Homo sapiens: one gene and its partners. The protein of the gene in region 2 purifies or fractionates together with the protein of the main gene of each other region. This does not show direct contact. Each region holds a gene or a part of one and is shown on either strand. Other genes may lie near its edges.

Region 1 (3,739 bases), on a different chromosome or scaffold from region 2:
TTCAGTATAGTGATAATGCGGTATTGACTAAAGGACAGGGATATAAATCAATGGAACAGAACAGCATGTCCTGAAATAAACCCATACATTTATATTCATCTGATTTCCAACCAAGGTGCCTCAGCAATTCATCAGGGAAAGAAAAGTCCTTTAAACAAATCGTGCTAAAACAATAGAATATCCACATAGAAAACAAAAGGAAAAACTGCCCCTTACTTCACACTATACACAAATACCAGCCTGAAGTGATTTACAGATGTAAGAGCTAAAAGCATAAAACTTATAGAAGACATGGGAGAAAAATCTTTGCAATCCTAGTATAGGCAAAGATTTCTTTGATACAAGATAAGGAGCATAAATCATAAAGAATTAATAAATTGGACTTAATCACATTTTAAAATTTTTGCCCCTCAAAAGACATCCTTAAGAAAATGGAAAGCCAAGTCACAGGATGGGAGAAAATATTCTTAATATACATCTGAGAAAAGACCAAGAATATGTAACAAGGTCTTTCACTCGATAATCTAAAAACATGTATACATATATATAATGTTTTTATATATTTTATATATACAAAACGTGCTAAGACAATAGAATATCCACATAGAAAAAGGGAACAATTGCCCCTTCACACTATACACAATTAGCTTGAAATGATTTACAGATATAAGAGCTAAAAGCATACAACTTTTATAGATATATAAAACTATATATCTATAAAAGCAGGTGAGAAAAATATAGTCTAATGTCATGAAAAGCATAAACAATAATCTATGAATGTCCATGAGCCATTTTCTCGTTTATAGCAATTATTAAAACTGAACTTACCACCTGTGTCCGAGAAGTTGGTTTTCCTTTGGTATCTGTAGAAAATTTCCCTTTATTACTAATACGTGCTGCCTGTTCTTTACAGAAATTTATATGTCTATCAGCTGCATTTTCATTGAATCTCCTCTGACAATATGGACATTGAATATAATCTATAACAGATAAAAACGGAAACAGATTAATAGCATAGTACTTGAAACGGACATTAAAAAATCTTAAGTTTCTATGCAGTCATTCAAAAAATATAAGTAATAACATCTGATAAGCAAAAATTCCCATATCCTTATAACTACCCAGTTTTACTTGTCTAAACTTAGTAAAGAGTTAAAAAAAAAAAAAGTCTGCTGGTACATGACTTCCAATTTTCTTCTAGCTTTGAATCAAATGTGTGAAGGAAAAAAAACAAAAGATAAATCCTTAGTACAAAAGAGTAAGCAGAGGAAAAACGTTATTTCTTTTTTGCCTTTATGTTTTCATTTATAATGGATACATACTTTATATAGCAGACTAGTTAGGAAGTAATAATACATGACGTTAAAATACATTTTAAAATACAGGCTCATCTATTAAAATTTTTTATTTCATCAAATGGAAAACTGTCAAGAAATAGTTTACTTATCTTTAAAGTGCTATTTTCTCTTAAAAGTCCCAACAGATGGAAGAAGTGATTAAAATATATCTCACTGACATAATTCAAATTTAAGAAACAGCAAATGTTTCCAAGATAAAATATCTTCCCAAAATGCAAAGCATACTGTAAATTAAACTTCTTTTGAAATTATTCCAGAACCATATTTTGTAGCATTGTAAAATAACTAAATGAGACACTGGGAATAAATGTAAAAATCTGGTAGTGTCAAAAAAGAATCTTAATTTAACAGGTTTACAACTTATTTTAACAGGTTTACTTTTTTGATACAGAGTTTGCCCTTTTCAATTTATATTCATCTGAGCTCAAAAATTTGTCCTCCTTACTACTGGAGTAGGTCTTAAACCTCTCATAAGAAAGAAATAAGCTGTTTTTGTCAGGCCCAAAAGATTAAAAAAACTTCTAAAGCCCAAACGATCCTGAAGAACTGGTACCCTCTCACTCTCTTATATTAGACATGAGAAATGTAGCTATGTAGAGTTAAGACACAATATCTAAATATCTTCAAAGCAGAGAGAAAACTCAAGTTCATGAAGAAAATAAAAGGTAGTATTAAAAGAGGCCCAGGATCAGTTAAAGCATACCAGAAACATTCATTCATATAAGTTAATTATTAATACTCTAGAACAGGGTTTCGCAAAGTATGGCCCATGGGCCAAATCCAGCCTGCCTGTTGCCTGTCTTTGTAAATGAAGTTTTACGGAAACACAGCCATGCTCATTTTATATTTATATATATATAATTTATATATATTTATATATAAATATAGATATAGTTTATATATAAAAATATAGATATAAATAATTATATATTTATATAAATATATATAATTTATTATATAAATATATATTTATTATATAGATATATATTATATAAATATATATATAATTTATTACATGAATATATATATTTATTACATGAATATATATAATGTATTACGTAAATATATATATAATGTCTTACGTAAATATATATAATGTATTACATAAATATATATAATGTATTACGTAAATATATATATAATGTATTACGTAAATATATATAATGTATTACGTAAATATATATAATGTATTACGTAAATATATATATAATGTATTACGTAAATATATATAATGTATTATGTAAATATATATAATTTATTACGTAAATATATATAATTTATTATGTAAATATAAAATTTATTATATAAATATATAATTTATTATATAAATATATATAATTTATTATATAAACATATATAATTATATATAAATATATATATAATTATGTATATATAGTCTATGGCTTATTTGTTGCAATAGAAACCTTATGGCATATAAAATCTAAGATATTTACTATATCTGTAGATATACTATATCTCTCCTCTACAATAAAATGTCAAAAACGATCATATCTAGATTTGCTAAAGAACTTTCTCTTTGTTAGAAAATAAATCCCAATCTAGAGTACTAACATAGCATTAATGTGGCTACCCTGTTACATTAACAACCTCTTTAGGCTGCTCTAATAAGGAATGTCAAAGTGTCAACTTTGTCACTTTAAGTTTTTCGGTATCTCAGTATCTCATACAAGGTTGCAAAAATCTTGCTTTGCTTTTAGTAACAATGACTCAAGCAACTTTTATCTGCTCAATGAGAAAAAATTTAACAATATACAAATTTAAGCCATAAATGTAGTCGAGCCACATGAATTATACATTTTAGGAAAATTATGATTTTTTTTATATCAATCTCAGATGAGAAGATACCAAGGAACCAGGCAACATAATTATATGACTCCTGCTGAATGACTACATTTCAATCCGCAGTGAGCATGGTTAAAATATTTCCTGGAATACTCACATTTAATAGTTACTATAATAATTTTTAAATGATATTATAATGCCTTGTTTAAATAAAAGTATTAAAATAAAAACATAATACACTTCCATGTTCTAAATTAATGTCTTTATAAGCCTACATGACTAGATTACCACCACCATTTTACACCAAATTTTAAAGATTATGCCTCATAACACTCCATGATTGTAAGTTAAGCTTAACAAGTGAAAATTTATAAAAACTCTATCATTATTTTCTTTCCACATGAACATTTCTGTCAACAATATTCCAAATACCAGGATCATAAGAAGGTGGAGGAGGAGGAGGAAGTTTGCCACCCTCTTTGAGGGCCTGATCAAGGCCTTTAGCTGCTCTTATGGTAGCAATGAATTCTTCATGTTTCCTTCTCCAATTAGATGGTTTCTTTGGTGGTTCTGGCTAT
Region 2 (3,500 bases):
AGAGTATAACAATTTTAAATTATATCAAAACTATATTATCTGGCTGTCTATCTATATTAGGGTATACTCTTTGTACAAAAAGAACTGAAAAACAATTTAAAACATTTTAGTAATCATAATATTGGTGGTAATGTTGGTACTGTTAGGCAGTAAATGTGTAAGATAAGTCTGGAACATTCTGTCATAGTAAGTACACAAGGTAGCAAGGAAGGTACCAAAAAGTATATAGGTTGTTTCAAAAGGACTTGGGCACCAACCTTAAGAGCTCTCCTTGAACAAAGATGGGACAATATGAGCATCAATGAAGACAATAACTGCAGTGAATTGAAAAACATCAAGTATGTTTAAACCTATGAATACCTAATGATACTTGAAAGCAAAACACAAAAAATGAATTATTACCAGTGGACTATGCTAATGAACCAATTCATTCTTTTGAAAAATTGGTAACTAAATAGAATCCTTTCCTATGAATTGCACTACTAAGGAATCAGAAAACGTGAGGAAATTTCTCTATACAGAAGTATCCAAGCTAATAAATGAAAAAGAAATATTAGAGTAGCACACCATTTTGCAACCCCTGATGAATTAGAGTCTAGGCACTAAGCTGCTAACATTACACAAGACAGCCAACCTCCAGGCAGAATGATTAAATATTACATTGAGGTTTTTACAACCAATAGCTATTCTATCTAAATTTCTTTCAAGTCAGGAGTTCTACTAAACTGATCCATCCTTTTCACTTATGATCACTAAATTGGGTCAGCAAACTTTCTATAAAGAACCAGATGGCAAATATTTTGGGGTTTCCTGGACATAAGGTCACTGTTGTAATTACTTAAACTCTGCCGCTGCTATTGTAGCATGAAAGTAGCCTTGGACAATAGGTAAAAGAGTGGGTGTGACTTTTTTTTTCTTTGAGATTAATGGGCTATAGTCTGCTGACCTGCTCTAAATGACAAGGTAGATAAATCAATGATCCCTAATGATAAATTAATTTTTCCCAACAGAAAAGTTAATCTGGTGATTATTATTCAATCCTCAAATTGAAATCAGCAGAAGGAATAGTCAACATTATTTTCTGGCTAACCATCTCTTAATTTATTTTGTTAATTTAAAATGTGTGGTAAGCATCAAATGTATTTTGACAACTCCAAGTCCAAAGTTTATAATTTCTCAAATTGTAATAAAGCAGATCTTATATGTTAGGGATCCAGTAGTAATTCCTTATTTACTGAATTAACTTGATACATACAGGTATAAATACATGGGTATATACACAGAAGTAATTTAGATGGTTGGACATTTTACCTTATCAGAAAACCAAATGAGCCTGGAATCTTCATAATACCTAAACATGCCGTATTTAGGATCCAATAATTCCCTCATGATGAGCAAGAAAAATTCTTTGCGCACCCCTCCTGCATCCACAGCATCTTCTCCAACAAATATAACCTAAAATAGCACAATGCAAACACCAAATAGACTGTAAAGAAATGAAAGTACATTCTGGAGACCCTAGAACATGTTATTTATTACTAATACTCTACAATTAATAGTTTAAAATAAATATAATTTTATTTATTAAGTTTAAAAGATTCACTAAAAACAAATAGGAAAATTTTAAACATAGCTTCTGAATAAAAGTCCCAATTATACCACAGAAAATGTCAAATTACCTTGAGTGGCTTCTTGTAATCTATGTTCTTTGTTTTCCTAAGGACTTCCATTGCATCTCCTACAATATTTTCTCTACGCACCACTAGAATTAAGCAGGGATTCACAGATTCAATCACTGGGAGAAAAAGAGAGGAGACATTCTGCCTGTGGGCCTGATCAATAGCCATCTGGAAAACAAAAGATTAACATTTTAACAGCAATGCTACAATAAAGCTACTGTGACTGAAACAAGCTAACCTCTACCTATTAGTTACAGGTATTCTATAATTCCTATGCTACTGAATTAACATAGCACCTAACAGTATCCCGTACAGCATAAAACTTAATAAACTGAGCATAAAGAGTACCCTTTTGAATGTTTTTATACTAATGTATAATGTATAACTCATAACACCATTAGAGTAAGCCAGTACAGAACGGTAGTAATACTGATAAATCTGAGCATTGGTTTTTCTAAAAAACATTCACTGGAGGGGAGGGTAAAGAGGGAGGAGCAAAAACAAACCTTTAAAGAGTATAAGGAACAGGCTGGGCGCAGTGGCTCACGCCTGTAATCCCAGCACTTCGGGAGGCCAATGAGGGCAGATTACTTGAGGTCAGGAGTTCAAGACCAGCCTGGCCAACATGGTGAAATCCTGTCTCTACTAAAAATGCAAAATTAGCAGGGCGTGGTGGTGTGTGCCTGTAATCCCAGCTACTCAGGAGGCTGAGGCAGGAGAATCACTTGAACCTGGAAGGCAGAGGTTCCAGTGAGCTGAGACTGTACCACTGCACTACAGCCTGGGCGACAAGAGCGAAACTCCGTCTCAAAAATAAAAAATAAAAAACAAAGAATAAGGAATGATCTGGCTAAGGAAGCATTACACAAATTCACTTAACTAAGTGATCATGGTATGTGCTCACGAACCAAGGATTTGACTTTTACCATTTAAAACTTTTGTTCTTTTATTATGGTTCTCCCTGAGTTCTTGTTCTAAAATGGAATATCCCATGGTAAAATCACCAAGTTATTAACTTATCGTTTTAACAAAGACCTCCAAAAAATTGGCTTACTAGCTGTTAGTATAGAACACTACAAAAATATTTAGAATACCAAATGCATTTATTTGAACAGAATAAAAATGGTTACCAAGATTTGAAGGTTTTTAATTTTTTAAAATATTTTTAGACTATTAAATATTCAAGCTTTCTTTTCATCCTTTCCTTAATCCTTAGTTGGTATAGTCAGATATTCTATACCAGAGGAAGCAGCTCAAAATCTTTTTTATTTACAGGATCAAATGATAAAGCAAACTTACTGTAACCCTTTAAAGTCATAATATGAATTAGTTTAAAAAATCCTCTCTATAAATGAAAGAACTCTCAACATAAAATGGATGGGAAAGGGTGATAGGAAGGGGAAAAGAAAGAGGAATAGGAGATAATGGTGACCAACCCCAGGAACATGTTTAATACCTTATTATTGAAACTTTCTTCAAGGAAATTTCACATCTTCTTCCTAACGAGATCAAATGCTTCCTACTTTTAACATCTCTCACCTCTAGTGACTTCCATCTCTTACCAAGCATATAAAAAGGGGACATATAATGAAACAAGATTTTGAAACAAACCAACATCTTATCAAGTAAACTAGTAAAACGGTTTATAAAGATTGAATATTTCTGTAATGAAAGAGGCTTATACAATTTTTAATATATAAAATGATTATAGGTTAAGTTATTCCATTTTCACTGCAACCTTTTTTTATAAATGTTCTCATAAGAATATACATATCACATGCAGCAGTCTTCTTTATAGCTACCCAAAGTACTTTGTGTACC
Region 3 (3,739 bases), on a different chromosome or scaffold from region 2:
CCAAGCCTCGTGTGAGAATCACAGCCAGGTCAGCTGGTAGCCTCTGGCAAGTGATTTATCATGTCCCGAGTTAATGATCTTGATTTTGCATTAGACAGGGTCAGTGTTACCTGGCTCTTAGGGGTGTTTTTGTGGGTGAAGGATGAAGGTGATCTAGGTTGTCTTCATCGGTAAACTCTTGAATGTAGGAACTGGGTCTTCACTTTTTTTCAAAGCCTGTGAGTACTGAGTACACAGCCATGCTTCTATTCATGCATTCAGTTATGTATTGAATGTTTGCTGTATGTCACATGCTGCGCATGTAAGGATGAAGAATACAGATATGATCCTCTGTCATCAAGAAGACAGGCTGGACATGGTGCTCACACCTGTGATCTCAGCACTTTGGGAGGCCGAGGCGGGAAGATTGCTCAATACCAGGAGTTTAAGACCAGCCTGAGACCTTGCCTCTAAAAAAAAAAAAGGAAGACAGATAATTCAACAGGCTTTGGAAATACCTGTGAAAGGTACTGTGGCATTTTAGGGTACTGAAAAAGCATAAAGGACCCAAGGAACATCCCAGAAGAACTGGCATTTAACCCATAACTTGACACATAAGCAGGAATTGCCTGGCCGAGGGAGAGTTGAGGTTTGAAGGGATAGGAAGAGGAAATAGCATGTACAAAGGTGTAGAGGTAGGAGGGCTTGGTGCTTTGAAAGAAAGTATAAGAGTTGCAGTAGAACTGGATCAAAGCGTGTGAGGGGTGGAATTGTGAGAGATAAGACCTAAAGAATTAGAAAATAAAGGGATTTATACCTCATATTAAGTTTGGATGTTATCCAGGGGATGATAAGGAGCCATTGAAAGATTTTAAGCAAGGGAGAGATGTAATTGTCTTTGCATTTTAGCTGGATCTCTTTGGGTATGGTGTGAAGAAGCCATAGGAGCAGGGAAAGCCTGGAGCCTGGCTTCTTGACCAGGGGATGTTGAAGTAGCCCAAGTAAGAGACGATGGCGGTTGGGACTGGGTAGCAGGACAGAGGGAGTGGGCAGATCCCACTAACTTTCAGAGGTAGTGCTCATAGGGCACTGATGAGTTAGATGTGGAGCCTCAGTGAGCAGGAGGCCTCGGGTTTCAGGCTTGGATGGAAGGTGGTGCCATTCCCTTTCACTAAGATAGAGAATGCTAGAGGAAGAAGAAGTTTAGGCAGGAGGTGTGGCTTTGATTTTGGCCGTGTGAATTAGAGATGCTCATTGGACATCTATGTGGAGATTCTCAGCAGATCTGGAAATAGGAATTGCTGGAGAGAGGTGGCCACTGTGTGCTTCCTTGGCCCTGACTACTGAGGCTTTGGAAGGATGCCATTGACTGAGGAAGTTTATAGCTCAGGTTGGTCCAATTTCTAGGTCTGTATAGACCTCAGGTCTTTCCTCTGTCTTTCATCTCTCTGGCCTCAGGCTTCTTCAGTCACTTAGCATCTCTCCCCTTTACAGCTGGAAATGCCTCCTCCCGGGCATTCCAAGCTGACCAGACAAACATAATGTCCAGGCCGTGGTCCACCTTAGGCCAAACCTGGTTTAGTAAGTGGGGCAAAAAAGCAGAGAGGCCTGCAGCTGGCAGTGGCGATAGGTCCCTGAGAGCCAGCACGTAGCCTCCTTAACCACTGCTGTGCTCTGTGTGGTACATAAGTGTGTGGCCCTGTCACCTTGCCCACTTGCAGGTAAGTAGGAGAGAGACAAAGGCTGGGAGGAATTTCTTGTTTGCCTCTCACACATTGAATTGAGGGCTGAGAGGAGGAATGTTTTTGGTGATGGTGGGTTATTTTCAGGGACGGATCAGGAAGAATTTCCTTAGAGCTATTTCCAAACTTGGCTGGTAATCAGAGTCAGTTAAAAAGATATATATGGCCGGGCGCGGTGGCTCACGCCTGCAATCCCAGCACTTTGGGAGGCCGAGGTGGGCGGATCACGAGGTCAGGAGATCGAGACCATCCCGGCAAACAGGGTGAAACCCCGTCTCTACTAAAAATACAAAAAAATTAGTTGGGCATGGTGGCGGGTGCCTGTAGTCCCAGCTGCTTGGGAGGCTGAGGCAGGAGAATGGCGGGAACCCGGGAGGCAGAGCTTGCAGTAAGCCGAGATCACGCCACTGCACTCCAGCCTGGGCGACAGACCGAGACTCCATCTCAAAAAAAAAAAAAAAAAAAAAAAAAAAATATATATATATATATATATATATATATATATGTATAGGCTGGGTGCAGTGGCTCACACCTGTAATCTTAGCACTTTGGGAGGTTGAGGCAGGAGGATTTCTTGAAGCCAGGAGTTCGAGACCAGCCTGGGCAACAAAGTGAGACCCCATCTCTAAAAAAAAAAATTAGCCGGGCATGTTGGCACACACCTGTGGTCCCAGCTACACTGGAGGCTGAGGCAAAAGGATCGCTTGAACCCAAGAGGTTGAGGCTGCAGTGAGCCATCCTCACACCACTGCCCTCCAGACTGGGCAACAGAGCAAGACCCTGTCTCAAAAATACATACATACATATAGATATGTGTGTATGTATACACACACACACATATATGTATAGTGAAAATGTAAAATACAGAAAAACATACATGGACCTAAGTCTTTTTTAAAAAAAAATTATCTTTAATTAATTATTTGAGAAATGGGGTCTTGCTGTGTTGCCCAGGCTGGAGTGCAGTGGCTATTCAGAGGCTCACTCATTGTGCGCATGGTGCTTATGGTGCCTGGAATAGCTGGCACTACAGGCATGTGTTCTGTGCCAGCTCAAGTCTTCAATTTTGCTTCAGATCTTTAACTTTTTAATTGTGAAATATAACTGTATGCAGAAAACTGCATAAAACACAAAGGTACTGAATAACAAATAATTATAAAGTGACATCTGGGTCAATAACTAGACCACAGTCAGACCCCTGAAGCTCCCTCTGTGTCTTGTCTAGTCACATCCCCCTCCCCTTGCTCAAGAGGTTTTCAGTAATCACATCCTTTTTTTCTCTATGGTTTTACCTCCTAGTTTTGGAATCCATAAGCAGTATATTTCAGCTTTGCATGTTTTTGAACTCTGTTCAAATGGAATTTGTACAAAATAATATGCTGTGCATATTATTTCTTGCTTCTTTTACTTTATATCATTATGTAAGATTCATCCATGTTATTGCAGCTTATTTCTTTTTTGCTTGTTTATTTGTTTGTTTTTGTTTTTTTGAGACAGTCTCACTCTGTCACCTAGGCTAGAGTGCAGTGGCGCGATCTCGGCTCACTACACCTCCACCTCCTGGGTTCAAACGATTCTCCTGCCTCCGCCTCCCAGGTAGCTGGGACCATAGGTGCACGCCACCAGGCCTGGCTAATTTTTGTATTTTTTAGTAGAGACAGGGTTTTGCCATGTTGGTCAGGCTGGCCTCAAACTCCTGACTTCAGGTGAGCCACCCGCCTCATACTGCAGCTTATTTCTTCATTGCTGAATAATATTCCATTATATGAGTATACCCCCAGTTGTTTACCCATTTTATTGTCATCTCAAGTTTTTGCCCATTGCAAATAACATTGCTGTGAGTAGTCTTTTATGTATATCCTAGTACAACTGGCACAAGTTCCTTCAGGTATATGCTGAAGAAGTAGAATTGCTAGATAATAAGGCACGCATACTTTAGGCTTTTGCCAAACCATTTTTCAAAGTGGTTGTACTAACTTATACTCCCACTAGCTAGTAGAAAGTCAACACTGGTTCAC

The links.
Region 1: the proteins of HERC4 (region 2) and ZC2HC1A fractionate together in Homo sapiens (co-fractionation; one large-scale study listed by BioGRID). This does not show direct contact.
Region 3: the proteins of HERC4 (region 2) and SMO purify together in Homo sapiens (affinity purification with western blotting; one study listed by BioGRID). This does not show direct contact.

The regions. Positions count from the first base shown.
Region 1 is NC_000008.11:78,686,463-78,690,201, reverse strand, and holds part of ZC2HC1A (zinc finger C2HC domain-containing protein 1A), read right to left. Parts: intron 3,736-3,739; coding exon 3,594-3,735; intron 981-3,593; coding exon 829-980; intron 1-828.
Region 2 is NC_000010.11:67,953,284-67,956,783, forward strand, and holds part of HERC4 (probable E3 ubiquitin-protein ligase HERC4), read right to left. Parts: intron 1,848-3,500; coding exon 1,680-1,847; intron 1,456-1,679; coding exon 1,312-1,455; intron 1-1,311. UniProt on the Homo sapiens protein: Probable E3 ubiquitin-protein ligase involved in either protein trafficking or in the distribution of cellular structures. Required for spermatozoon maturation and fertility, and for the removal of the cytoplasmic droplet of the spermatozoon.
Region 3 is NC_000007.14:129,191,592-129,195,330, forward strand, and holds part of SMO (protein smoothened precursor), read left to right. Parts: intron 1-3,739. UniProt on the Homo sapiens protein: G protein-coupled receptor which associates with the patched protein (PTCH) to transduce hedgehog protein signaling. Binding of sonic hedgehog (SHH) to its receptor patched prevents inhibition of smoothened (SMO) by patched.